Homo sapiens: one gene and its partners. The protein of the gene in region 1 binds, or shares a complex with, the protein of each later gene. Each region holds a gene or a part of one and is shown on either strand. Other genes may lie near its edges. The genes, in order: VCP, VCPKMT, RHBDD1 and UBXN6. A codon is read from its position in the direction of its gene.

Region 1 (7,509 bases):
CACCACACCTGGCTAATTTTGCATTTTTACTAGAGATGGGGTTTCACCATGGTGGTCAGGCTGGTCTCGAACTCCTGACCTCAGGTGATCTGCCCACCTCGGCCTCCCAAAGTACTGGGATTACAGGCGTGAGCCACAGCACCCAGCGCTCTCTCTTTTTTAAGAGCGGCCTCGTGTTAGTAAGGCTCAGGAAAACATAAGCATTAACCAAAGTAGGAAGGCCAGACAATGAAGGAAGCAAAGAAAATAAATTTTTAAAACGAATTTCTTCATTCAACAAATTCATGAGTCTCTATTATGTACCAGGCATTGTTCTAAGGGCTGGGGATACTGAAGTCAACAAAACAAGACAAAATAGTATTCCCATTGGAAATATCCTCACAATTTGCAAGAGACAAAGAAAAATGCTGTGCTCAGCTAGGAAGCCATGGGGTTCTTACATCTTTGGGTCCTGATACACCCAAGAGAAAAACAAACCCCATTCATCTAACAAAATGGTAGGCCTTCTGCTAACCCTCACACATAGGCTGCATTTTTAACCACTGCCTCTAAACTAGTTTCTAACGACAGTTTCCTCTGCTCAAATTTGCTTCCCCCATTCCAAAAGTCTGCCACTCCAGGCACAATGCTGCTGAGTAGGCAGACTCTTCCAATGCTTATCAACACACTAGAGGCCAAGCATGCTCAATGTGACAGTTGAGAGCAATGTAAACCCACGAGCTCTCCCACTCCTGTCCCATCAAAATACTCTTCCAGGGACTGCCCATCTTCTTGCTTGACTTATAGAACTGGGACTGGAGAAAAATAAAACGCCAGATGCCTCTAGTCACCATAGTTTTTTATTTTTTGAAACGGAGTCTCCCTCTGTTGCCCAGGCTGGAGTGCAGTGGCGCGATCTCCCTCACTGCAATCTCTGCCTCCCTGGGTTCAAGTGATTCTCCTGTCTCAGCCTCCAGAGTGGCTGGGACTACAGGTGTGCACCATCACCATGCCTGGCTACTTTTTGCATTTTAATAGAGATGGGGTTTCTCCATGTTGCCCGGGCTGGTCTCAAACTCCTGACCTCAAGTGATCTGCCTGCCTCGGCCTCCCAAAATGCTGGGATTACAGGCCTGAGCCACTGTGCCCGGTCAATAGTTTGTATTTTAATCTCAAAGCTGTATCCTAGGAAAACCTCCATTCTGCCTACCATCCCGGACTCTGGCTCTGGAGATGAGTGGTATGCCCTTTTCTTAAGGTAAAGCCTCTAATTCCCCATCTACCTACTGAGATCAGATGTGGTAATCTCTAAAAGACTGAATTTGGCCTGACCATGGGCCAACAGCAGTTCTGGACACTCTTTGGGGCAATCCTCCATTGTCTTCTGTATAAGTCAATCCCTTTCCAGAACTGCACAGGGGACTCCACGGGACTTGGAAGGGTTTCAGCTAAGAGTCATCAAGGTGACCAAGAGGTTAGAAACAGCTGATGATGCCAGGTTCCAAGAATTTTAGATTTTTACTTTTGAAAATAAGAGGCTGACTGCATATAAACCAAAAGAATACTTTCAGAATAAGTGACTCTTTTAAATAAGCAACTGAGTAATACTTTATCCGAATTCAGAAACTTGAGAAAAAGGAACACACCTCAAAAAACTAATCTCTTCAAGGAAGGAAGGTAATTTGCATAGAGTTTCCTTGGGCTGGCTGTGTTTTTTTTTTTTTTTTTTTTTTTTTTTTTGCCTCTAAAAGCTCTCTATTCTAAATTGAATGGGCTGAGGTAGCCAAGTTTTATCTAACGCTTTCCTAAGGATGGAGGTGGGGTCAGAAAGCCCCAGAGCCCGGGTAATTTCTCAATATAGCTGGTTGGGGAAAGGAGTGCGCGCACGTTTGTGTTTTTGAAGAGTTAGTGCAACTCTAAACTGCACACCACGAAACCTGGAAATCTGGAAAGGCGCACAAAACACGAACTGAGATTCCAACTTTAGCAAGAACCTAAAATGTTAAAGAAAAATTCCTTTCTCCCCACCCACGAGTCATAACATTAAGGAAAACTGGCTCAAACTTTCTAGTATGAACAACAGGCCTAAAGTAAGAAGACCAGAAGCGAAAGGTAGGGCTCGCCCTCTCCCTAACAGTCCTTCACGACTCAGGTCACACACAGAGGATGCCCACCTCCGGCCCCGCCGACCCGGCTCCAAAAAGGCGGCTGTGAGCTTCCCTGAGCTCGGCGGGCCTTCCCCGACCCCGGGCTCCGCCTCGGTGGCAGAGCTCCTGAGGCCTTCACATGGCGCAAAGTCCACGCCCACCGGGCCCGGCTGGGGCCTCGGGCTCGCGGGGCCTGCTCTCTCCGGGGACCAAAGGCTTTCGGCGGGTGGTAGGCCGGACGGCAGACTGGCGCCCCAAAGCCCCGGGGCGCCGCGCCGGCGGAGTGGGCCGGAAGACCTGGCCAGGCCCAGACGTCCGTTCTAAGGGAGCCAATCGGGCGGGCCGGGGCCTGCATGACACAGCACGATCCGGCCCAGGCTCCGACCCGGACCCAACGCAAGCCCCGCCTAGGGGGCGCGCGGGTGCGCAGCTGGCCCCAGCCGGGCCTGCCGGGTCCACGGCCCCTCACTCGCCCCCTAGCTTCCCTTCCCTCTTTCCTGGTCTCCACCTCTCTGACGCGCCCACGGCCAGGCCCCGCCGGGCCTACCCTGCGCGGCTGGTCCCGGTGCGCGCCGCCGCAGCAAGCGAACGGCGCGCGCACACTCACTCGGCTCCAGAAGCCATGGCGCGCGCCTCTCCCGGCCGGCGGCTGTGGCGGCCCGCGGGTAACGGCTACGAGCGGTGGCAAGCGACCGACTGGGCCGGGGCTCGGCTCTTCCAGGCGGTGGGCGAGCAGCGGCGACAAACCCGCAAGCGGCTTCCCTCTCGCTTCCTCCCACCGGCAGCGAGGCGTCGGGCGAACAACGCTGGCTCCTGATCCGCGAGGTGGCAGTGGCAGTGGCAGCGGCAGCGGCAGCGACGACTCAAACGACGGTCGCAGACGCTTCGCTGAGACTGAGCCGAGAAGAGCCGAATCATCGGAAGGGAAGCTGCTCCCACCTCAGCCAATCAGCGCCTGCCCTGCGGACTCTCGCCCGCCTCTCCGCGCCTCTCCCCAGCAACCCGCAGATCACAGCCAATCAGGAAATTCGCTTGCGGCCTGGCTCCCGCCTCAGTGATGCGACACGCCTAGTAACGCCACGTCAATTGGCCGCAACGCTACGCTTCCTCGACGGATTGGAATTCTCAGCCAATCAACGAAAGGAATAGGGCGAGATCGATTAGTGAAAGGAGACCCTTTAATCCCTTAGAGGCGGACTCTCCCACTTGGCTCCAGTTCATTGGCTCCGGAGTTTATCCTCCTGGAAGAACGTGGCACAATAGACTGAACCCTTGTATTAGTCTAGTCCTATTGTGGTAACCCATACACCCATCTTCTCCCAAAACCTGGAGATCTTCTAAGACGCCATCACCACCCTGACACTTCTTGCTCCTTCTCAACGCTGCCTCCAACCACCCCTACTCTGAACTTTCTGACTAGCACCCCACTCCTACCCCATTGTCACTGCACCCTCTGGTAACCCCAATCCCACAGCCTTTGCAGTTTCTCAGCGCTTGTGCCTTTCTTCCTCCCGTCATTAATATTAATACCTTATAATAAGGCACTCAAATCCAGAGAAGTCAAAGGGCAACCACAGAACACACAGCCAATTCAGTAGAACCCAAATTAGCAAGAAAACTGCATATGCTGGGACTTGAAAATCCTTGGGCCCCAAATAACAGGGGTCCCTGTTAGTAGTCAACAGGCAGCTGTTGGTGATATGCTGACTCAATTCACCTTTCACCCTGTACCCACACAGACACATTTGACTAAGACGAGTCGAATTTCTAGAATTTGGAATTAGGAAGGGAGTGAAGAGTTACTCTGAGAGAAACCTGCCTGTCTCTAAGTAACAGGTACCTGCCCTTGTCCTGAGAGGCCTATCTAGACCACCCTTCAGACCCAACTCCACTCATTGTCACTGTCCTGGGCTTTGGGGCTCTGCATTCAGGCAATGTGAAGGACTAAAGCCACTGCCTCCAAAGTGAGGATTCCTGTAGCCCTTTCCTCATACCCAGACTTCAAGTTCATAAGGTAGACGATGTCAGGAAAGGGCATCATAGACAACTAGCACTCAACTAGACGGTCACAAGCCTTCCCACGCAAGTATATGTAGTAGGCAGACGAGATAAATATGAAATTTTACTCGACAACAGAAAAGGAGAAACAGGAAAAAAGGTGCCTCGAGCAAAGTCAATGACTTGGTGGTGGCAGAGATTGTTTCCTCCAAAACGAGAATGGTAGTAACTAGGGCAAATTTCACAGGCCTACCACCAATCTCACCAGTCCAGGAATTATATAGGAATGGTCACATTCCTAATGATGGTGAAGCAGAAAGCCCTCCCCACAGAGAGACAGCCCACTGGGGACCCAGCTCAAGCTCTTCAAAACGTGGCAGCTACAGGTCACAAGACTTTGGCAGAGATGTCCGAAATTCTTCAAGGAAGGCGTCACGATCAGAGGGACGGATCCAGCTCAAATAGCTTTCTAGGTACAGGGGGAGAGACCTGGAGAGAAAGAAGGATGATGCCTAAGGGTGAAAGATTGGCAGAAAGCTGGGCAGCCATACCCCCGCTTTCAGTGTTCACCACCCACAATAGGTCCAAGGACTCTAGGACACCAACTGCCCCTCAGCCCCAAGCCAGCAGGCCTGAGCCTCACCACAGAGCATCTTCATGTGACCCCTTAGTTTGGGCCTCCAGCCTCCACCAGAGTGCAGTGGCCTCATCCCTCCGATCTAGCCTCTTCAGAGTCTGAAGCAGGTGAAAGTAAGTGTCTCGATTACCTGTAGCCCCAGCCCAGAGTACAGAGTCTTAGAACTTGACATAGTCTTAGGCATTGTTTTATAAAAAGGGAAACTGAGGCCTAGAGAGAGGAAGTATCTTGCCTACACTCACATATGGAAGCGGGGGCAGATCATTCACAACCATTCCCATCCCAGTGTCCATCATCTGCCCCCTACTCCTGTGCAACCCACAACAGCAGAGTCATGGTCTTTGTGTCTGAGGATATCGGGGAAACCAGGGAACTCTTGGGAGCCCTGCATACACACTGTGTATATTTGAACACCTGGATATATCCCTAGGTATATATAGCACAACCCCAATCACCCCTCCTGTCTGAGAACACCACTCTTACACTTACGCCCAAGTATTTCCCATGGGCCTCTCTGTCCTTGCACATCTATGCATAGCCGACGTCATGCAAGTATACATACCTGGGCACATCTGCACACTGAGGAGGAAGTCCTGTAAGGCTTTGGTATCCTGGCCGCTGGCTACCCATTCCAGTCCACGACTAATTAGGGCGGCTGCCCGAAGCTGCTGCAGTGCCGCATCTGACTTACATCCCTGCTCACAGTTGAAAGCTGCCCCTGGGGACCACTCCCAAAGTCAAGAAGTGTCTTCCCAGCCTCACAGTCACCAAAACCCCAAATCCTCCTCTATTTCTTCTTGTGTCCACAGTCCCTTTCTCTTAAGTCTCCTGGTGGGCTGGGACACATTAAAGGGAACCCACTTCCACCACTACCACTTCCAGGAGGTAAGAGGAAAACTGAAAGTTTAGATCACCTTGTTCTTTTTCCTCAGGTGTGGCCCGGAAGAGCAGCTCGAGGCACCTGAAGTAGGACACAGAACAGGGGTGAAGAGGAATCAATTTCAGAAACTCTAGGGTAAGTAGGTGAACATGGAGCTCACCAACTCAGGTCCCAATCAGAAAATCATCCCTCCACACCCCCTCTAGGACCCCGGGCTCACCTGCTAAATTCACTAATTGCCACTTTTTGGGCACCCAGTTGAACCCAGGCCTGGCCCTGAAGCAGGTGGGTGGCAGAGACCCAGAGTGGGCAGTATGGCAGTTCCTTGGTTCCTTTTCTGGCATCTTCCCACAGCCGGGACATCTTGGGTAGCAGAGATGATGTGCGGCTGAGCAACTCCTCACATAGAGTCAAGGCATCTTGGGCTCTGCCTGCCTGGATCAGTGCTACCGCTGCCTCCAAAAACACCTCAGGCATACAGGGCCCTGGAGGGGAGGGGGGTGGGGAGAACTGGAGTGGGAAGAAGAAGCAGTGTCTTGAAAGGCATGAGCCACCATCCCCAACCTCTTCACCAGGCTCTGGTACCATGCAGAGTCCTGGGCCCCCAGACTGGACAGACAGAATAGAGGAAAAAACAAAAAATTGCAGTCTTGCTGTATTTCAAAGGGGACACCAACCCGTCTACCCCATTGCAGAGAAGCTTGAAGACACACCCACCCTTGGCTCCGAGCTATCCAGCAACAGGGCCAGCAGGTCCAAGTAATGCTCTGCAGCGTCTCCTGCCCTGAGGAGTAAAAGCCCATAAGCCTCACCCTAGGCCCTAGCAGGGAACCTGCAAGGGTCCTGAGAATGTTCTCTCTTAGCTAACAGATGGATGTTCATGGGCCCTGAGGAGGAGAAAGGGAGGGAAGGTCTTAGGGCTCCAATTTTGGCTCAGTATGGATCTACCCCAGTTACAGAATGGACTGGGGAAGAGACTTCAGAGTGTCAAAGATAGAGAAGGTTAATGTCTTAGAGAAGAGTCCTCAGTTCAGGTCTAGAAGCAAGGTAAGAGGCTGAGGAGTGGCGACCTATGTCCTGCCACTGCCTCATTCATCCCCCAAGTCACAAGAACAAAAGCAGAGTCACACCCCAGGGGAGGCATCAGAAGTGGGAAGAGAAGCTCAGGTGAGCAAGGGGAACCTCACCTCCCCGTCTGTAGGCACCTGCTTGCTAGTATGTGCTTGGTCTGGCTCTGAGTGCCACAATGAAGGGGTGAGGCTAGGTCAGGTGGTGGCAGTAGTAATTCTACCTCAATGAGAAACTGCGGGGCTTTGGAACTGCATGGGACATTCAAGGCCTAAAAGAGAAAGAAAAAAATTGTATCTATAATCTTTGGGAGCCATACTTCCTTATACTTGGATCTTGACTAGTCAAGTCACCCCATCACAAGCACCTCAGGAATCCTCCACCCCACATCTTCACCTGGCAGTTCCCTACCTCAACTAGCAGCTCCAGACTCTCCAGCTCTGCTGTTGTGTCCCCCAGTTGCTGATAGAGCCTAGAGGCCTCCAGAAGTGGAGGACCCCAGGCTGATCCCTCTTTCAGGGCTGCAACCAAGTACAACAGTGCTCTCTGTGGATTTCCCTAAAGGGATAGGAGGACACGGGCCTCAGCTACCCTTACAAAGCAAAAAGCTATACATAATGCTTGTGGTTTCCCCAATCCACCCTAGGACTGTCTTTACCATCTTACGGTGACAGGACCCCAGTGCTGTGTACACCTGGACCAACACAGGCCGTGGACACAGGCCTGAGGCCGCTTCATGAAGGCTGCTTAGTGCCTTGTCTGGGTTCCCTGTGATCAGCTCCTGGAGACCTGAGGACAGT
Region 2 (5,458 bases), on another chromosome or scaffold:
TGAGCCAAGATTGTGCCACTACTGCACTCCAGCCTGGGCAACAGAACAAAACCCTGTCTCAAAAAAAAAAAAAAAAAAAGAGAAAGCAGGAGGGCATAAAAACTGGAGGGTGAAAAGACATTTAAGGAACCTGGGTGGACTATTATAGTCAAGGTCAAACTTATTTTTACAAATTTCATGTTATAAAACAAGCTAAAAAGTGGTCATTTGTCCTAAGACATCATTAATAACAGCTAGCACTATCTGTACCTCACAAAGCACCACAGATTTAGGTTACACTGCCTTGCAAACTGCTTAATGAAATGCTAAGGACAGTATGAACAAAGTATCTTGGCGGGGGGGAAACCAGCAAAGGAAACTTTTAAGACTGAAATAAACCTGAAAGGAATGAACTGATTTCTTGACTTGTATCCTTAATGTCTCTAAATAGGGCTGCTTTTGCTCCTGTTAACTGTTTAGATGTTCACTTTCTTCAAAGGTATTTCTGAAATTCACAGTCACAAGGTCTCAAAAACAATGTTTATTTTAACACATAAAATGTACCATCTAGCACCAATGCCTATAAATACCAGAATTCCATCCGGTTACTACTCTTTGGAACAAGTATGATTAAAGTCCTTGACAGATTATTGTATATGAGCGAATGGCTTCATAACATAAAACAGAGAGACACAGAACAGAAATTCATTTGGTATATACATATAGAACTACATTTGTAGTTATTCAAAAACCTTTCACTGCTTCATGTAAACAATACCAGTATTTTTAAGCCAGATTTTCCTGGAACATATACATAAAGTGCATGAGCCACGTAAGTGCATAAGCCTGAAACTGGTCTTTCTATTCTCACTCCATGCTCAAATGAAAAATCTGTAAAGATATCTTTTGTTCCTCCAATCTTCTGATTTGTCTTCTTAGCAACTCATTACAGTACAATTTACTGATTAAATCACATAGATATGTATGGTGGAGGAAAAGAAAACTTTGGCTAATATAAGTATACAAGACAATATCTCAGTTCTTTTTAAAATTAAAAGAACATTTCAGTATTAAAGATATTTTAAAAGAAATGAAGTGGAAAATACAAATGATAAATATTGTATAATTATGTACAAAATGAAAACCTTTTAAACTCTGAAGACAAACTAAAATTTACTAGTTTGAATTTAAAACATTATTATATAATAGCAGATAGTTCTCTTCAGAAATTTATCTCTAGCTTCCTGTAAAAGGTCCAGTCAAATCATGTTGGCTGTTTTTGGCAGATTTCAGCCTCGCCTCAATACCAATTTTTATTTGAATAACTGATTCCCAACATTTAAGAAGAACTTGATGCTGAACTAAGTAACCTAAGCTGGATTCAGGGCCATTGGCAGGCAGGCAGGCAAGCAGGAATTTTTCGTATTGCAGACAGCCCCTGGTGGTCATCATCTATACATCGGATCTCTAAGGACGTGCCGGAAAAAAAAATCTGTGAACACAATCTTCCCATGCTGTATTCACATGCTCTATTCACATCTTTAGTTTACCCAGGTTGTTAGAGCCTTGGGTAAGATGATTAAAGGCTTCACGATGGAAATTTCTATAACAAAAAAAAAGGAAACTTAAAAGATTGATTTACCACAAACTATTTACTGGGTATTTAATAATGCCTAATATGCCTCATAATGCCTAGTATGCCTAGTATAACAGTGGCTACATGCAATTCAAGTGAACAACCATGCATGTTTATAGATGGTTCTTTGCTGACACCTAACAAGCAACTGAAGAAAGAACAGATGCATTGGACATTATCAAAATTAAAATATATGTGCTTCAAAAGACACAACATAGGCCGGGTGTGGTGGCTCACACCTGTAATCCCAGCACTTTGGGAGGCTGAGGTGGCAGAGCACTTGAGGCCAGGAGTTCGACACAAGCCTGGCCAACCTAGTGAAACCCAATCTCTACTAAAAATACAAAAAAATTAGCTGGGCGTCGTGGCACATGCCTTTAGTCCTAGCTACTTGGGAGGCTCACACAGGAGAATCACTTGAACCTGGGAGGCAGAGGTTGCACTGAGCCAAGATCATGCCACTGCACTCCAGACTGGGTGACAGTGCGAGACTCTGTCTCAAAAGAAAAATAAGAAAATAATAAATTAAGAAAATACAAGACACACTATTGAGAAAATGAAAAGACAACCCACAGAATGGGAGAAAATATTCACAAATAATGCATCTGTAAGTGTTTAGTATTCAGAATGTATAAGGAACTCTCACAACTCAAAGTAAAAAGACAAATAAGTCAATCTGAAAATGGGCCAAGCATTTCTTCTAAATACAGAAAAGATACCCAACATCATTAGTCATTAGAGAAATGAAAACCACAGTTTAGAGACTATCTCATACCCAGTGAGATGGGTATAATTAACAAATGTTGGTAAAAATGTGGAGAAAACTGGAACCCTTATACACTGCTAGTGAGAACGTATAATGGTATGGTAGATTAGGAACACAGTTTGGCAAGTCTTCAAAAAGTTAAACAGAGTTCCCATATAACCTTGCAGTTCTCCTCTAGGTATATACTCAAGAGGTCTGAAAACATGTTCACACAAAAATTTGTAGATGAACGTCCATAGCAGCATTATTCATCTCATCAATGGATGGATAAGGTGTGGTACAGCCACATAAAGGAATATTATTCAGCCACAAAAAGGAGTTAAGTGCTAATGTGTGCTACAATGTAGATAAGGCTCGAGAATACTGTGCTGAGTGAAAGAAGACAGTCACAAGAGGCCACACAGTATGTGACTTGTTACATATGACATGTGCAGAATAGGCAAATCCATAGAGATTAGTGGCTGCCAGCAGCTGGGGACGGGGGTAACAGGGAGTGACTGCTAATGGGTAAGAGGCTTCTCTGGGGGGTGAAATCATTAAAAATTAGAAAGTGGTAATTTACACAACTATGTGAATATACTAAAAACCACCAAATTGTACACCTTAAAAGCGTGAATTTTATGGTATGTGAGTTACATCAACTAAAAAATAAGAGTTTTTTTTTTTGGCCGAAAAAAAAAAAAAAGCCTCTATATTTAGGAAACACAAAATCTTTCTGCCTCCAAAAAATTCTACTTTTAAAACTGCACAACAGCTTCAGTTAACACTAGATCCCTTAAAGCACAAAACAGTTTTTTTTGTATCTGTGGCACCATGCCACATAAATGTTAATCTGAATAATCCCGCTGCTGCCTTTTTACTTAGATTTAGTCCTAACACCTACTTCTGTTCCCTAAGTTTTATTTGCTTTTGACTAGAATTCATATAATCAGAAAACTTTACCACAAACATAATCAAAGCAAAGATGATAGAAAAAGTGTGGGCTTATTGAATCTAGCATCCTTAATTCATAAAACTAATCATCTCCCTGCCTTACACTAGTCACATATACCAAAGGTGCTGGAAATACAAAAATAGATGAAAGGCCAGGCGCAGCAGCTCACACCTGTAATCCCAACAATTTGGGAGGCCGAGGTGGGCAGGTCACTGGAGTCCAGGAGTGCAAAATCAGCCTGGACAACATGGCAAAACCCTGTCTCAACAACAACAAAAAAAATACAAAAATTAGCTGGGCATGGTGGTGCATGCCTATGGTCCCAGGTACTCAGGAGGCTGAGGTGGGAGGATCACTTCTTGAGCCTGCAAGGCAGAGGCTGCAGCAAGCCGAGATTGCACCACTGTACTCCAGCCTGGATGACAGAGTGAGACCCTATTTCAAAAAAAAAAAAGGATGAAGTACAATTCTTCCCTCTTTCTACAGGCTCAAACCCTAGGTGTCACTGAGGCAACCTGCATAAAATGTGATTGTTATACAGGGTAAAACATGCACCAAGAAGCGGGAAAATACATAAATTCTACTTAATTGAGTGCATTTATCTTTTATGGACTCATCTGCCTTGTTGTATTTCATTTCCTGTAAACAATTTTTAATAAGGAAAAGTTCACAAAGGTAAGAGCAGGCATTTTAAAATCTCACAGAGATAAAAGAAACTTATAAATAGCTAATAACTTGTCTGAGGTAATACCCAATTATAGAGCTATACAATTTACGCCTATGGAGAAGCTGGAAAAGGCCTTTAAAAGCGAAGCCTGGCCAGGTATGGTGGCTGATGCCTGTAATCTCAGAACTTTGGGAGGCCGAAGTGGGCGGATCACTTGAGCCCAGGAGTTCGACACCAGTCTAGGCAACACGGTGAAACGTGTCTCTACTTAAAAAATACGAGAAAAAAAAAAAAAAAAAAAAAAAAAGCCTGGCTTTAGAGCAAAAACCCAAGGCAAGATAGATTAAATTATCTTGACAATGAAGTTACTGCCTGAGTCCAGTGAATCATTAGAGCTGTTTCTCCACATCAAAATCAACGCCCATACCACACATATGCCCTGAAATAGTGTCCAGCTGATGAAACCTCCTTGGAGAATGAAGAACTGAGAATGTTATTTACCGATTTTTTCTTTCTGATGTATATAATATGAATATCTTCACTTCGATACTCTTCATCATGTTTTTCCAAAGGAATTTTTTCAAAGTCAAAATCTAGCTGAAGGAGCTATAAATTTAAAAGAGACATACTTCAAATTCAATAATATGAACTGACCTGTGGGTGACAGAAGTCAGAATGCTGGTTACTTTTTTTTTGAGAGTCTCACTCTGTCACCCAGGCTGGAGTGCAGTGGTGCGATCTTGGCTCACTGCAACCTCCACCTCCCTGGGTTCAAGTGATTCTCCTGCCTCAGCCTCCTGAGTAGCTGGGATTACAGGCAAACGACACCACACCCAGCTAATTTTTGTATTTTTAGTAAAGAAAGGGTTTCACCATGTTGACCAGGCTGGTCTCGAACTCCTGACCTCATGATCTGCCCATCTCGGCCTCCCAAAGTGCTGGGATTACAGGCGTGAGCCACCGCGCCTGGTCAGTGGTTACCTTTTGAGTATTGCCTGGGAAAGGGCAGTGTGCAAACCTTCCAAGATCCTGAAAATGTCCTCTATCTTTATGTTGGTAAGTAGTTACTTGGGTGTATACATATGAAAAATTAAGCTCAGCACTTGACTGATACATATGCATTTTACATATGCTTTACCCCAATAAAAGCTGTTTAACAGTACGAAATTTTCATTATGCATCATTTCAAAAGTTCATGAACATTTTTCATATTCAAGAAAAACATGAAAATAAACAAACATTTTAGTATTTGTTACCTGAGGCAGTCATATACCTGCTTTCTCATTAAACCAAAGTAGTCCTTCCAGCAGACAAAACTGCAGGCCTATATAGATGTACCCTCAAAAGGAGTCACTCACAATGTGATAGATTTGTGCCCATATAAGGGTTTGGGTGATCACTAGGGGAAGAAGAGTGACAGATACATAAAACCCTATATACTATATTTTGCAACTTCCTGTAAGTCTTTTCTAACTA
Region 3 (7,022 bases), on another chromosome or scaffold:
CCAACCCCCACAAATATGCTCCCTAGGCTACCCTCCATCTAGCTTCCAGGTGTGTTAGAGGCACAGTTACACAACATGTGAATGACCCTACCACAGCAGAAACTAGTAGTATCCTAAAGTACTCTGTAGAGCTGAACACTATAATTTTAAAAATAAGTTAAAATTTATTAAATGAAATACAGTGCCTACCTGAACTATTAAAGTAGTATTGCCGTCCTGGGTAACCAACACTGGAGGAAAAACCGCCTAAACGTAAAAGAAATAAACATTTTAATGGCAGCCATAAAGCTTTAAATGCTAATTGTTCCAGTAATTAGAAAGTTCTCTGGACAAAGCCCAAGGTCATTTCAAATGATTTCTAAACACTTATTAAAATAAACTCCCTTTTGTTTGGGGGCCAGCCCTAACTGGAAAAGAGTGTGTGTGTGTCCCTACAGGGAAAAGAATGTGTGTGTGTGTGTGTGTGTGTGTGTGTGTGTGTGTGTAGTGGAAAATGAAACCCTAATTTACACTCACTGAAGTTCCTTAGTCTTTGCCTGCCAAAGTACCAAGCCTCGGCTTTGATGTCTCTGTACAAGCAGAGACACTCTGGCTAAATGGAGAACCTTCCTCAAAGAAGGTGTTAGGAGAGCCATCCTCCCTACCCTTCCTAGGGGACTTCACTCTTTCTTGTCCCTACAGAAGGCAGTAGGACTGTCTACTCAGTCAATTTGGCACGGCTGAATGAAATGAGAGAGGGAGGGCCAAGGGCCACACCCTCAGGGTGACCCTCCTCTTCCAGGAGGCATCAGACAGCAGCTTCCACATGCTGGGTCGTTTTCCATGGGGTTCCTGTGTCCTTCAATTCTCAGCTCACAGAAAAAAGGCCGAGTTCGCAGGCTATTTGCAAATTGCACTGAGTGTTCTAATTTTCCTATTTAATTTGCTATTGTATTTATTACTTTGAAAATGGAGTGGTGTAGAAATAAGTCACCACTTATTTTTTAAGGCTTTTAAAACTAAGAGTTTAAATATTATAATTAGGGGAAAATCCTCTTTAAAAATTAAACAAAGCACTTGCTTAAATTTCATAACATGTCTGCAAAAAGCTTTACTAACCGCTTCATCATGAGACACAGAAAAAAGAAACAAGACATTAAACTCCCGAGAATCATCTCTTTTATCAGTACTAATGAGTATTAAATTGTATTGAAAATACAATAAAACTGGACATTTTCAATAAATGAAGCTCCCACTGCCTCCTCTAAGTACGTACAGTGGAAACACATTAATAAGCAAACGTGGGAAAATGAGGATCTGCTTAAATGCAACACAGCCTGTAAAAATCAACCAAAAGTGAACACGACCTGCTAATAAAGGTGCCAGTGCAGTGCCTGGAAAGCTTTCTACTATCATGAATATTATATGGTTCTCAAGAATACCAGTCATCAGCACAAACTGTGAAACAAATTATTTATGGTTCAAGAAAAGGTAAAATAGTCTCAGAAGACTTCCCATGAATAAAAGATGAAATAGTGGAACTCAGTCTATAAAACAAGTGTTTGCAAACCAGTTTTCTTACAAGTCAAAATGAGAATCGCATTGAAAATTAAGAGGTCTAAAAAATACAAGTATTTCTAAATGAAATATTTTCATTGAGTATCAATTTGAAGGGAAAAACAAAATTAAAAAAAGCAGGAGCTAAGCTTCAAGCAATAACAGACTTGGTTTCGCCATGCATGAATATATGGCTCATCCACCAAGGACCCGGTCATCAGTCTGAATTCTTTAAAATACTGGCCATGCACTTCAGTCCAGGCTTTGTTTTCTTTTTCACCTTTGCCTTGCACGTATATTAATTCATGGACTATTATAGAAGAATGCATTATTTTAAAGGCACTTTAGTTCTCTGCATTCTTTAGGAAATCGTGGTTTTCTGCGGGTAGCATTAAGGTTGAGGGTATAAATATATACTGATATTTGTCCCCTAAGAAAGTATCAGATTCGAAATTTAAGTTTGCAGCCTCTTTTGTGGAGCAATGTAAGGAACTGCACTGGTTGTTTTACCTTTCGGTTTAAAAAGAAAAACAGGCATATTAGGGAATTCTTGAGCTGAACCACAGGGAAACTTGGGGTTGCTTCTGTTCACATTAAAATTAACATGAACTTCCAAGCTGTTGTCATGCCAAAGGTGTTTTATTCTGTACCTGCACATGCTTCCATGATTTTCTTCAGAGGCCCTTGAGTGTACATTAGTCCAACAAGAATCCCAGCCAGATGCCCAGCGAAGGAAGTCCTAGGAGGGAAGGAGACCCTTTGTGAGTGTTTGTTCTGCTGCTGATTAGAGACATTCTGTCTTCTCATTAGCCCAGTGCATGTCAAATAGTCACAGTCTGCAGGCTTTGTTCCACATCAAGTCTTTTATGCTAAGCAGCATTTAACTCAGTCCAAAGAACAACATCTCCTACCTTAAAAAAAAGTACAATGAATAACAACCACCACATGTTTAAAACGCAACACCCCTCCTTAACCAGGGGAAGTGGGTTGTCTCCTCCAGAGCAGTGGAAGCATTTGGTCAAGACAAGTCATTACATCGCTTTCCGTTTTTTTTCTGTACCTCTTATCACAAAACATAAATAAAATCAGTTTTCTCTGTTTGGCATTAAATCTGGAATTATCCAGCCATTGTGAGGGATGATGTCTATCTGTGTTATGGCAGGGCAGACTGCTGCAGTTTTCTACACCATGGATGAGTGAAGCAGAGAGCAAGTGAAACTCAGCAAAAGGAACTGAGATGCCCACCTGCATCCACCAAAGTTGTCTTCATGTGTATGTTTCAGTCACTCAGAACAAAGAAACATACATTTAAATTTCAAACTTGAAAGATGAGTTAGGGCATGAAAGTGTTTGCGTTAGGGCATGACAGTGGTTTAACTCTTCTTAAACTGGCATCTAAAACCAGCAATTACTTGTAAGATTTATTTTCAGAGGTCTACTTTGACCCAAGTGGCAACACTCTTTGTGGAGTTCCCTGGCTGAATGACCTCCCAACCAGCCTGAGTTTAAGAAATTACTGGCGATTCTCAAAAACCTCTGCTGTTACCACAAAGGGGGGGGTCCTACACAACGAGTTGTTCTTTAAGCACTTGACCTCAATTTCCAGCTGCCCGCCACCCTCTAGACACCCCCGCGCACACATGCACACATCCACTAGCACCTTAAACTAGACTTTTCTGGGGTGCCACTCCCACTTCCCGTTTGTAATGCCTCTCATACCCCTCCCAGCCTTCCCATTCCTACTGCCACAACCATGCTTACTGCCATCTGGACTATTTGGAAATGCCCAGTGTTGGGCACAGAGTGAACCCCAGATGAATGTGTGTTGAATGAATAAAATAAATGAAAGAAAATCATCCAGCTGGTCTCCCTGCAAGCCAGCTCTTGCTCTCCAGTGCATCCCACACACGGCCATCAGTTATCCTCCTGAGGCAGAAGGCAAGTGGTGTCATTGCCATCCTCTGAAATCCACTGGTTCTCACAGAATACTCCGGTGTGTGTTTAAGCCCTTCCAACACTTGGCCTTGCCCATCTCTGCAAAGTCAGAGGGTGGAGACCTCATCGTCTACTACCTCCATTCCCACATGCCCCACTGTCACATCCCCCAAGCACTCTCTGACCATAGGCTAAGCCAAACAGCACCTCTGTCAAAAAATGCCACCCCAGTTGAAGAGCCGTTCTTTCCTTCTCCTGCCTCCCCTCAGAGCTGAGGCTCCTACCTTATTCTGGCACGAAGCCAGTCTGCTGGTGGCACAGTACTTACACGTCTGCCTGCCTGTCCGTCTCTCTCTGTCACACACAAACTCCCTGAGGGCAGCAATGGTGTCTCATTCATACATTATACAAAATTAGAAGCTTAAAAAAAAAAAAAAGCCAAGCAAATGAACGCATTCCCACAGCCTGGAATAGTGACCTCTCATTCCAGAAGGTGGGAAACTGAAAGTTATGAAAGAGCCTGATGGAGACTCCAAGAACATAGCCTTTATGTGGCTTTTACATATGTATTCCAAACACCCAGGACAGGGCCAGGCACATGAGAGGCACTCAAGGATATGTTGAGTAAATGGCTCAAGTGTGCCAGGACCGTTTCACCAAGACCAACAGGAGGTAAGTTAAAACCACTAGATGTTCAGCTCAGGGTGCTTGCTGAGCCACGGCAATCACAGAGCTAAGAATCCGCCATTTGGTAACCTACACGAGACTCAGAGTCAAAACCAATACATTTCGCCTACTATGGCAGCAGCCTAGGGGAGATTCCCTGAAACACCACAAGCAAGATGGTTCTGAGTAATTTTCTTTGTCTCCAAGCTATGAAAAGACTCGCTGGCTCTCAGGAAAAGAACATGCAATGAGGAACACTTGAAAGAAAGAGACAAACAGGAGCCTTGTAAAGAGAACAGCATTGATGCTTGTTCCCATTAGCTGACTAAATGACACTATTGCCCAGACAAGCCCTCACATACATGCACACGTGCTAAAAGTCATGGCACATGCATGCGCGTGCACACACACACAGACACGCACACACACCACATACACGATCATCCCCTCAGGAGAGCATTATTTTCATCAGATATATCTACTGAAACAGGAGTTCCCTGACCCCCCTCCCCCCCCGCTTGCAGGATGTGCCACAGTGGTGTAACTTGTCTGTTTGGTGACCGTGCATGCTTAAACCCCTTACGGGAAGGGGAGCACACAGATGGGCAGGTGCAGGAGCTGGGATGAGTGCCCCTAGGCTTCAGCCTCACGGCAACGTCCAGGGGTGTGTATCTGCGACTCCTGAAACCCAAGTGGGTGTGTGTTACAGTGCGCTCTTTTAACCTTGCGGTCCACAGGCAGCTTAAGGGTTAGACAGCTCAGTGAACCCTCTGCCTTTCCACAAAGGCAGAGGGCCAGTGTGAAAGTTTTCTGTTTCCCTGTTTCTTCTCTGGCATCCAGGAAAAATCAGATCACACGTGGACTTGAAGGATGAATGTGGGGCTTTTATTGGGTGATGGAGGTGGCTCCCAGTGGGATGGATGGGGAGGTGGAAGAAGGATGGAGTGGGAAGATGGTCTTCCCCTGGAGTTTGGCTGTCCAGTGACATATCTCCTCTCCGATCATGTCCAGGTAAACTCCCTCTTAGCATTCAGATGCTCCTTCTCTCTGTTGCGCCGTTCTGCTATTCTTCTGCTCTTCTGTTCATCTCCTTGTCTCCTTCTGGAGCCTGGGGTCTCAGGTTTATATGGATACAGGAGAGGGGGGTGTGGTGGGCCAATAGGCAGCTTTTGGATGCAAAAACAGGAATGCCTGTTCCCATTTAGGGCTGTGGGTTTCCAGGCTTGAGGGTGGGGCCTTTGCTGGGAACCGCCCTCTTCTACCCACTGTTTCTGCCTCCTGTCCGTGTCACTACTTCATATAATAAAATTATGGGATTGAACATTTTTTCCCATTTTCTGGCAAGAATAGTAGGAACTATGCTTTTAGCTCCCCAGCCAAGCTAAGAAATTCTATAGTCACCCCCCATTATCTGCAGACCCCCAACTGGATGGCTGAAACCACAGATAGTACTGAACCTTATATATACTATGCTTTTCTCATCTCATAATCATAACAGCTACTAAGTGACTCACGGGTGGGTAGCAGAGACAGCATGGACACACGGGGCAAAGAGATGATTCACGTCCTGGGTGAGACGGGGTGAGATTTCACCATGCTATGCAGAGCAGTGTGAAATTTAAAACTTATAAATGGCTTATTTCTGGAATTTTCCATTTAATGTTTTTGGATCAAGGTTGACTGGGGCTAACTAAAAATGCAGAAGGCAAAATCACAGATAAGGGGGACCACTGTACTTATTTTATTCTATGCTCAGGCTCAGTACAATCGGCCACCTATTAATAGTTGTAAAAATGACAAAGAAAGTGGCAGTTTGAGAGATACAAAGAAGTGGCCAGGACCAGTTAAAAAAATAATAATAACTTCAATTTAGATGAAAAGAATATAATAATATTGGTATTTCTGAAACTCTGGTTTCAAATCAACCTTCATGGTGAAGCATATATGATATAAAATAACATAGAAGGAAGTTTCAATTTAAAACTTCAACCTATTAAACAATTAATCTTGAATCTCATTTACAATTTAGAGTACAATACAGTGAAATGAATTTCTTATCTATCTCTAAATGGTTTTCAGAAGTTTGAGTTATAATCTAATTGCCCTAATATAATTTCAAATATCTAGGGAAGGGAGGCTGGCAGTCCGGAGAACTCATTGCGTCATCCTCCAACATTCAGCATTTTCCACAAAAGTTCCATCTCAAAAATTTAACTGGTCTTGTTTCATTTAAGCTTTATAAAAGTGTTCAATTTTAAAATAAAAATGAGATTATGATCTTATTCAATCAAAACTGAGAATCTCTCAACATCACACACATAAAAAAACAGGAGAATGAATTTCACCAATGTAAAAGGAATATAAAAGTCATTTTAAGAGGTAAATTAACTTTCTCCATGCCCTTGGTAACCATTTGACAAATCACTTCCCTTCACCCTCTAAGAGATACCCACATCCTGAGCGAGAAGATAGATGGACCTGCAGACAGGGAGAAAACTGAACTGGGAAGGTGGTTCTCACCAGTCCTAGGGTTAGGGCACTTTACCCCTGAGCTGGGGGTGCTGTGGAGACAGAAAGAAGCCCTGGGCTTTGGGGGAAGATGATCCATCTGAATGCTCTGATCAGTGGCTGGGATCTACCTTCAAACGTAACAGCATCAAAACCAGACAGTATTGTTACAATCATAATTAGATGTGTTAAACAGAAGTTGTGAAGCTTGTGGTCTCTGAATAAGCCTGTGGCTTCATTCTGTTCTTAGCTCCACGTGGAAGATGCCATCCGAAGCAGCATTCAGGGACAATCCTGCAACTAGGAACAACTTCCTGTTGACCTTACTAGGTCTTAGGCTAGGACTGGGGATTTGGTTATGACCTACCACCCTCTAT
Region 4 (7,886 bases), on another chromosome or scaffold:
CCCTCAGGTCACAGCTTCGTTTGCTGAGCACCTACTGTGTGCCAGGACCCTGCTGGGAGCTGGTCGGCTCGCTTGGTTTACTCCTCCTAACAAGCTGCCAGGGAGGCCTCACCATCCCATTCCTAAACCCAAGAGGGACAGGAAGTCCGGGCGATGTGCCCCATGCCACGCCACCCTCGTGGCGGGACCCTGGGGAGAGCGGACAGCAGAACCAGCCTCGCCCTGGCCACTCCATGCCAGGCCTAGGGCTGTGCAAGTACGAAGAGCTCATGGACTCGTGGCTCCACCCTGTTGAGCCCTACACCAAGGAGAGTTCCGTAACCCACGTGGCACAGTGACCTGGCAGAGAAGCCTCGCAGAGAAGCCCTTTCTCCCAACCTGCTCGGACGCGTCTGTCTCACCCGTCTCCTCTCAGGCCCCTCCCATGAACTTACGGGCTGTGTCAATTTCTGTGCCGTAGGTCTATTAAAACCTTCTGGGAGGCCAGGCTCTCAGTTCAAGCCCTATACTCCTCTGGCTCTGCTTACATACCCGGGCAGCCCTCCCTCCTCGTCCCACCCCTGCCTATCTAGTCCTCCCACAGCTGAGCATCTTGGGTGGAAGAGGAGATGACTCATGAAGACCCACCCCGGCCTCATCCGATATCTGGGTCTTTCCAACAAAATGCCATTTCCCAGGGCACCTCACCCCAACCAGCCATGGACCCTGCCCCCCTGGGCAGCCACAGGGACCCTTCTGGAACCTCAGCCAGGGAGCGTCAGCATCACTCCACTGCACAACGCCCTCCCACTGCAAAATCCTAAAGCTTCCCTTGGCCAGAGAGCCCTTCCCAGCCTGGCCCACTGCCCTCCCGTGGCCTGTCTCCCCTGGGCTCCCCGCAGTTCTTCCCACACCCCAGCTGCTCCCCACTGCAGGCCCCTGCACTGTCTGCACCTTCTGCCCAGAATGTTCTCCGGGGGAGTGGGAGGAGGATGGGGGTCTGGAAAGGGCTAGAGCTGCCGCAGGGAGAGAAGGAGGGGCAGATTTCCCCACAGCTGAGTCTCACTGTGTCCTGGGAGAGGCCTTCCCAAACCACCTGACGGCCCCTGCTCACCCTCCTTGGAGGCCCTGGGCACTCATCCAAGCACTCATCGCCTGAGCGCTCATCCAAGGTCTGTTGGTTTATTTGTCCATCGGCTCCCTCTAGAAGGTGAGCCCTGGGACAGCAGAGGCCTTCTCCTGTCCACCACTGCAGCCTAAAACAGGACTTGGTGCCCACCCACCCCACACACCCTGGATATGCAGTCTCGCTCCACAAGGGACCTCCGCACCGCTTCCTTTCCCAACCTTCCCCTCCAACCTTCCCCTCTCCGCCCAGGCTCTGGGCTGATCCAGCCATCACCCCGATACCCTGCATCCTTCCTATCATGCCCAGTCCCAGTGGCCCCAGCACCCCCCACCCACTATTGGTTGAATCAATGAAGGGCTCCCCCGATTTGCCCCCTTCTCTCCCTGACCCCTCTCCCTCCCTCACTCAGCCTTTGCTCTCCTGCTCTCCCCCAGGAACCCTGACGTCCTCACTATGCCCCTACCTCCATCACCACCCCACTGCCCCGTGATTCCTGACCCCCACTTCCTGCCACCTCCCTGCCTCTCCCAGCCCCCACTCCCTCACAATCCCTTCCACTATTGCTTACAGACCCGTGTCCTGGCTGCCTGGCTGACTTCCTCAGTCCCTCTCCATCAGTCCCCACCACCCTCTGGCCAGCCAGCTCCCTGCAGCGGCCCCAGCTCTCCAGTTTCCCTTTTCTCAACCCAACAGCCCTCAGCCTTGCACCTTCCCTAGCTCCACTTCTTCCCCGGCCCTCCCAGCTGGCTCAGCCCTGCTCAGGCCCTTCTCTCCAAGTCCTCCCTAGACAATCCGGAAGCCTGCCCGGCATCTATCTCCTTTCCCCTCCTCTCCCACTTCCATAATCCACTTGGCACAGTGACGTGGCAGAGAAGCCTCGCAGAGAAGCTCTTTCTCCCAGCCTGCTAAGACGCGTCTGTCTCACCCGTCTTCTCCTCTCAGGCCCCTCCCGGGTAAGAGTCCATCTGTCAGAATCCCTCACCTCCACTCTCCTCACACACCTTCCTCAGCCCCTCCCTCTCAATTCGCCAGGACATCCCAGGTCACTGACGACGCTGCCCACCCCGGCCTCCCTGGCCTTCCAGACTCTTTCTAGTCTCCCATCAGCCTCCCACGTGCTCCAGATACCAAATCCAGAACCCCTCTTCCCATGGATACCTCAAAACAACTCTTCACCACCCCACCCCACAGCTGTGCGTCCTCCTCCAAGCTCAGCTCCCATCCATGGTCACCTAGATTGCCCCAAATCATCCCGGCCTCTTCGGCCAGCCGGGTCCCCAGACAGAGCTCTCCCTCACCACCCGGCTCAGGACTCATGATCCCGTTTTTCCCCAAAGGTCGTTCCACTGACCCCCAACTGCCTACAGCCCCGTCGCCCTAATCCCCCGCCACTGCATCGGACCCTCCTGCGGCCCCGCCCCCGAGACCTCCCCTCCCGCCCCGCCCCCTGCGCTAGTTCCCCTCCCCTCGCCTCCCCCGCCGCGCCCCCGGGTCATACCCGCCCCCTCCTGCCCCGCCCCCAGATCTCTCTCCCCTCCCCCTGACGCCCACCCTCGGCCCGACTTCGTCCGCCCCCGGCGCCTCTCCCCCTCCCCTGACCCTCGCGTGCCGCTCCCAGCCCCTCATCCTCTCCGATCTCCCGAGCCGCCCAAGGCCCCAGATCTCTCTCCCCGGCCGTCCCCGCCCCGCAGGGCCTCAAGCCCCTGCGTTCCTCACGCACCCCACGGACTCTTTGAGCTTCTGACCGGGTCCCGCGCTCTTGAACTTGATGTCGGCCTTGAACTCCTGAAAGAATTTCTTCATGGTGGCGGCTGGCCCGGCGGCGGGGGGCCGCGGGGGCGGGGGGGCACGGGGCCCAGTCGGGGACGGGGCCGCCGGAGACCAGCCACCGGAAGAAAATTAAAAAAAAAAAAAAAAAAAAAAAAAAAATTTACCTCGCCGCCGGAAGTCCCGCCTTCCCCTGGCCTGCCACGTGACAATCGACTAGACGTGCCTCTCTAGCGCTCGGTGCCTTGCTGGCCCAGGGCGGCCGCTCTGTACGCTGGAGCCGCGTCTCTGTGGTTCTTCCGGACTCCGTTGCCAGGGCGACGAGTGCACCTCTCGATTGGAGACAGGGCATTCCGTGGCGCTCCCCAAACGGTGACAAACGGTGATAGGACAGGGACAGGCCAACTGAACCTCGCAGAGAAAGCACTGGGCCCTATCCCTTTCGCTGCTCAACCTAAACTAGGCGCGGTGGCTCACGCCTGCAATCACAGCACTTTGGAGGCTCAAGCGGAAGGATTGCTTGATCCCAGAAGTTGGAGACCAGCCTGGCAACATGGCAAAACCTCGTCTCTATAAAAAAAAAAAAAATAAAATAAAATAAATTAGCCGAGGGTGGTGGCGCGCGCCTCTCAGCTACTTGGGAGGCAGAGGCGGGAGGATCGCTTGAACCCAAGAGGTCGAGGCTGCAGTGAGCTGTGATCAAGCCACTGCATTCCAGCCTGGGCGACAGAGAGAGACCCTGTCTCAAGCAAAACAAAAAAAATTCCAACCTTCTCTGTCTCCCCAGAGCTTACGTGATAAAATCCCAATTCAATGTTGGGTATTGGAGGCCCCCACGATCTGGCCTGTTTTGGTGCCTGAAGCACCCCCCCGCCACCATCACCACGTACCCTAGGTAGGAGCTGTTTAAGAGGATGCACCTGGGCCGGGCGCGGTGGCTCATGCCTGTAATCCCAGCACTTTGGGAGGCCGAAGCGGGCGGATCACAAGGTCAGGAGATCGAGACCATCCTGGCTAACACGGTGATACCCCGTCTCTACTAAAAATACAAAAAATTAGCCGGGCATGGTGGCAGGCGTCTGTACTCACAGCTACTCGGGAGGCTGAGGCAGGAGAATGGCGTGAACCCGCGAGGCGGAGCTTGCAGTGAGCCGAGATCTCACCACTGCACTCCAGCCTGGGCGACAGAGCGAGACTCCGTCTCAAAAAAAAAAAAAAAAAAAAAAAAAGAGGATGCACCCAATGCACCCAATTGGGACCTGGGGATTGGGGATCCACTTTGGTGGACACCAGTTAATAGTGGCGTACTTTGGTCTGTGCAATCCACAAAGAAGATACACAAAGTGACAGTTAAAACAAGCCTCAAAAAATGGGAGTTGGGGGTCAGACGTGGTGGCTCATGCCTCTAATCCCAGCACTTTGGGAGGCCGAGGCCGGCGGATCACTTGAGGTCAGGAGTTTGAGACCAGCCTGGCCAACATGGTGAAAGCCTGTCTCTATGGGCACCGGTAATCCCAGCTACTCGGGAGGCTGAGGCAGGAGAATCGCTTGAACCCGGCAGGTGGAGGTTGCAGTGAGCCGAGATCTCGCCATTGCACTTCAGCCTGGGCAACAGAGGGAGACTCTGCCTCAAAAAAGAAGGAGTTGGAATGAGATACACAGAGACTGATGGAGGAGAAGCCTCCAGGTGAGGAAACAGCCCACCCCAAGACTGAAATTGAAATATCATGGGTTGGACGGGTGGCTCAGGCCTGCAGTCCCAACATTTTGGGAGGCCAAGGTGGGAGGATTGCTTTAGCCCAGGAATTGGAGGCTGCAGTAAGCTAGGATCACGCCACTGCACTCCAGCCTGGGCAACAGAGCCAGACCCTGTCTTATTAAAAAAAGAAAAAAAGGCCAGGCACGGTGGCTCATGCCTGTAATCCCAGCCCTTTGGAAGGCCGAGGCGGGTGGATCACGAGGTCAGGAGATTGAGACCATCCCGGCTAATACGGTGAAACCCTGTCTTTACTGAAAATAATTTTTAAAAAAATTAGCCAGCCTTGGTGGCGGGCGCCTGTAGTCCCAGCTACTTGGGAGGCTGAGGCAGGAGAATGGCGTGAACCCAGGAGGCAGAGCTTACAGTGAGCCGAGATCATGCCACTGTGCTCCAGCCTGGGCAACAGAGCAAGACTCCGTTTCAAAAAAAAAAAAAAAAGGAAAAGAATTGGGCCAGGTGCGGTGGCTCACACCTGTAATCCCAGCACTTTGGGAGGTCAAGGCGGGTGGATCACTTAAGGTCAGAAGTTCAAGACCGACCTGGCCAACATAGCAAAACCCCGTCTCTATTAAAAATACAAAAATCAGCCGGGTGTGGTGGTGTGTGCCAGTAATCCCAGCTACTTGAGAAGCTGAGGCAGCAGAATCACTTGAACGCAGGAGACAGAGGTTGCAGTGAGCTGAGATTGCACCACTGCACTCCAGCCTGGGCGACAGAGCGAGACTCTGTCTCAAAAATAAATAAATAAAGTAAAAAAATAAATAAATAAAAGAAGAATACAGTGCAACCCAAACTTCAATCTTTCTGATCTCCAGTCTCCTATCTATGAAATGGGGATAAGAATAACACTCTCTATAGATTGTAGGGGTGATCATGTGATTAGAAAGTTCTCAGTATGCCGGGCACGGTGGCTCATGCCTGTAATCCCAGCTACTCAGGAGGCTAAGGCAGGAGAATCACCTGAACTTGGGAAGCAGAGGTTGCAGTGAGCCGAGACTGCGCCACTGCAATCCAGCTTGGCAACAGAGCAAGACTCCGTCTCAAAAAGAAAAGAAAAGAAAATTACAGCTCATTGTTGTGAATAAGGAATTGTATACCCTATAACTCAAATAAAGGTACAACACTGGGCCAAAGTCACACAGCTGGAAAGTGGCAGAGACCCATCCCACTTCTCCAAGAATAAAATCCTATGGGGTTCCTCAGCCTGGTCTAAGGAGATCCTAACATTAATAGGCCCTAATAAATTTCTATTTCAGGTTCTAAGTATTCTGAGGGTTTCAGAAACCCCGTTTCTTGTTATCACCCACCTTTCCACCTCTGCCTCAGTTACCTGGAAGTATTTCCAGCTCACCTCTGGGCCTTTGCCTAGGCATTCTCCTTTACCAGAAGGGACTTCTCTTCCTCTGCCTAACTCAATCCTCTTCCACCATGACGCTCTCCTGGACTATCTTCCTCATGTCGGATGAGGTTATGAGATTAAATAATTTAACATTTCTGCCAGGAGCGGTCGGTGGCTCACACCAGTAATTCCAGCACTTTGGGAGGACAACATTTATTTTTCTTTTCTTTTCTTTTCTTTTTTTTTTTTTTGAGATGGAGTCTCGCTCTGTTGCCCAGGCTGCAGTGCAGTGGCACAATCTTGGCTCACTGCAAGCTCCACCTCCCAGGTTCACACCATTCTCCTGCCTCAGCCTCCCGACTAGCTGGGACTACAGGCGCCCGCCACCACACCCGGCTAATTTTTTGTATTTTTAGTAGAGACGGGGTTTCACCGTGTTAGCCAAGATGGTCTCGATCTCCTGACCCCGTGATCCGCCCGCCTCGGCCTCCCAAAGTGCTGGGATTACAGGCATGAGCCACCATGCCCAGCTTTCTTTTTTTTTTTAGACAGGGTCTTACTCTCTTCCCCACGCTGGAGTGCAGTGGCACAATCATGGCTCACTGCAGCCTAGAACTTCTGAGCTCAAGCAGTCCTCCCCACTCAGCTTCCCAAGAAGCTGGGACTGCAGGCATGTGCCACCACACTCAGCTAATTTTTTTTTTTTTTTTTTTTTTGAGAAGGAATTTCGCTCTTGTTGCCCAGGCTGTAGTGCAATGGTGCGATCTCGGCTCACCACAACCTCCATCTCTCGGATTCTCCTGCCTCAGCCTCCCGAGTAGTTGAGATTACAGGCACCCGCCACCATGCCTGGCTACTTTTTTGTATTTTTAGTAGACACAGGGTTTCTCCATGTTGGTCAGGCTGGTCTTGAACTCCTGACCTCAGGTGATCCGCCTGTTTCAGCCTCCCAAAGTGCTGGGATTACAGGCGTGAGCCACTGCACCCGGCCTCCGGGTAATTTTTTAAAAATTGTTCAATCTTGCGCAGTGGCTCACGCCTGTAATCCCAGAACACTGGGGGGCCGAGGGAGGAGGATTGCTTGAGCCCTGATGTTCAAGACCAGGATGGGTAACATAGTGAGACCTTGTTTCTACTAAAAAATAAAAATAACAGGCCAGGCACAGTGGCTCACCCCTATAATCCCAGTACTTTGGGAGTCTGAGGTGGGTGGATCACAAGGTCAGGAGTTCAAGACCAGCCTGGCCAACATGATGAAACCTTGTCTCTGCTAAAAATAAAATACAAAAATTAGCTAGGGGTGGTGGCAGCACCTGTAATCCCAGCTACTCAGGAGGCTGAGGCAGAGAATCGCTTGAACCCGGGAGGCAGAGGTCACAGTGAGCCAAGATCATGCCACTGCACTCCAGCCTGGGCAACAGAGCAAGCCTCCATCTCAAAAAATAATAATAATAATAAATAAAATAAAAATAACACCCTGGGCAACATGGCGAACCCTTGTCTCTACCAAAAAAAAAAAAAAAAAAAATCAGTGCTGGTTGTGCCTCCCTGTAATCCCAGCTACTTGGGAGGCTGAGGCATGAGAATTGCTTGAACCTGGGAGGCAGAGGTTGCAGTGAGCTGAGATCATGCCACTGCATTCTGGTTTGTGAGACTCTGTCTCAAAAAACAAACAAACCAAAAATTAGTGAGGCATGGTGGTGCGCACCTGCAGCTTCAGCTGCTTGGGAGGCTGAGGCAGGAGGAGATCGAGACCATCCTGGCTAACATGGTGTAACCCCGTCTCTACTAAAAATACAAAAAATTAGCCAGGTGTGGTGGTGGGTGCCTGTAGTCCCAGCTACTTGGGAGGCTGAGGCAGGAGAATAGCGTGAACCTGGGAGGTGGCGCTTGCAGTGAGCTGAGATCGCGCC

What was found.
Region 2: the proteins of VCP (region 1) and VCPKMT are in contact, whole or in part, in a crystal structure (PDB 7OAT), measured with the Homo sapiens proteins. Residues at the interface, in NP_009057.1 of Homo sapiens: Arg239, Gly280, Glu283, Ser284, Arg287, Lys312, Arg313, Glu314, Lys315, Thr316, His317, Gly318, Glu319, Val320, Glu321, Arg322, Arg323, Ser326, Gln327, Leu329, Thr330, Asp333, Pro355, Ala356, Arg359, Phe360, Arg362; in NP_078834.2 of Homo sapiens: Arg14, Ser15, Phe16, Val17, Arg18, Gln32, Tyr33, Ser34, Ser35, Gly36, Gly37, Val38, Val41, Trp43, Asp44, Ile47, Val48, Leu97, Asp144, Tyr147, Tyr148, Glu174, Arg176, Thr177, Met178, Gly179, Lys180, Asn181, Glu209 (codon at 4,534), Tyr210 (codon at 4,531).
Region 3: the proteins of VCP (region 1) and RHBDD1 are in contact, whole or in part, in a crystal structure (PDB 5EPP), measured with the Homo sapiens proteins. Residues at the interface, in NP_009057.1 of Homo sapiens: Asn33, Asp35, Val38, Phe52, Arg53, Gly54, Asp55, Thr56, Ile70, Leu72, Tyr110, Pro137, Tyr138, Phe139, Leu140, Glu141, Ala142, Tyr143, Arg144, Pro145, Ile175; in NP_001161080.1 of Homo sapiens: Ser300, Glu303, Met304, Arg305, Gln307, Arg308, Leu309, Arg311, Phe312, Asp313.
Region 4: the proteins of VCP (region 1) and UBXN6 are in contact, whole or in part, in a cryo-EM structure (PDB 8FCO), measured with the Homo sapiens proteins. Residues at the interface, in NP_009057.1 of Homo sapiens: Pro23, Arg25, Ile27, Gln43, Asp47, Gln50, Leu51, Phe52, Arg53, Gly54, Asp55, Leu58, Lys60, Gly61, Lys62, Arg64, Leu72, Glu80, Lys81, Gly97, Val99, Ile100, Ser101, Gln103, Pro104, Cys105, Pro106, Asp107, Val108, Lys109; in NP_079517.1 of Homo sapiens: Pro279, Ser280, Pro281, Ala283, Ser284, Phe286, Glu287, Leu288, Phe292, Phe293, Asn294, Leu295, Glu299, Ile300, Arg302, Glu303, Gln304, Leu306, Arg307, Ser308, Val311, Leu314, Ser315, Val316, Leu317, Arg318, Thr319, Lys320, Ala321, Met322.

The regions. Positions count from the first base shown.
Region 1 is NC_000009.12:35,069,604-35,077,112, forward strand, and holds the start of VCP (transitional endoplasmic reticulum ATPase), read right to left. Parts: upstream 3,023-7,509; 5' UTR 2,751-3,022; coding exon 2,734-2,750; exon of another isoform or gene 2,154-2,733; intron 1-2,153. Other genes in the region: FANCG (Fanconi anemia group G protein), read right to left, coding at 4,505-4,613, 4,768-4,891, 5,324-5,479, 5,676-5,722, 5,862-6,151, 6,359-6,425, 6,829-6,980, 7,121-7,267 and 1 more. UniProt on the Homo sapiens protein: Necessary for the fragmentation of Golgi stacks during mitosis and for their reassembly after mitosis. Involved in the formation of the transitional endoplasmic reticulum (tER).
Region 2 is NC_000014.9:50,108,132-50,113,589, forward strand, and holds the end of VCPKMT (protein N-lysine methyltransferase METTL21D), read right to left. Parts: intron 5,382-5,458; coding exon of another isoform or gene 5,379-5,381; exon of another isoform or gene 4,589-5,378; coding exon 4,484-4,588; exon of another isoform or gene 3,955-4,483; coding exon of another isoform or gene 3,811-3,954; exon of another isoform or gene 1,583-3,810; coding exon 1,568-1,582; 3' UTR 506-1,567; downstream 1-505. UniProt on the Homo sapiens protein: Protein N-lysine methyltransferase that specifically trimethylates 'Lys-315' of VCP/p97; this modification may decrease VCP ATPase activity.
Region 3 is NC_000002.12:226,902,046-226,909,067, reverse strand, and holds part of RHBDD1 (rhomboid-related protein 4), read right to left. Parts: intron 2,276-7,022; coding exon 2,187-2,275; intron 247-2,186; coding exon 190-246; intron 1-189. UniProt on the Homo sapiens protein: Intramembrane-cleaving serine protease that cleaves single transmembrane or multi-pass membrane proteins in the hydrophobic plane of the membrane, luminal loops and juxtamembrane regions.
Region 4 is NC_000019.10:4,454,787-4,462,672, forward strand, and holds the start of UBXN6 (UBX domain-containing protein 6), read right to left. Parts: upstream 3,009-7,886; 5' UTR 2,912-3,008; coding exon 2,829-2,911; intron 516-2,828; exon of another isoform or gene 435-515; intron 1-434. UniProt on the Homo sapiens protein: May negatively regulate the ATPase activity of VCP, an ATP-driven segregase that associates with different cofactors to control a wide variety of cellular processes.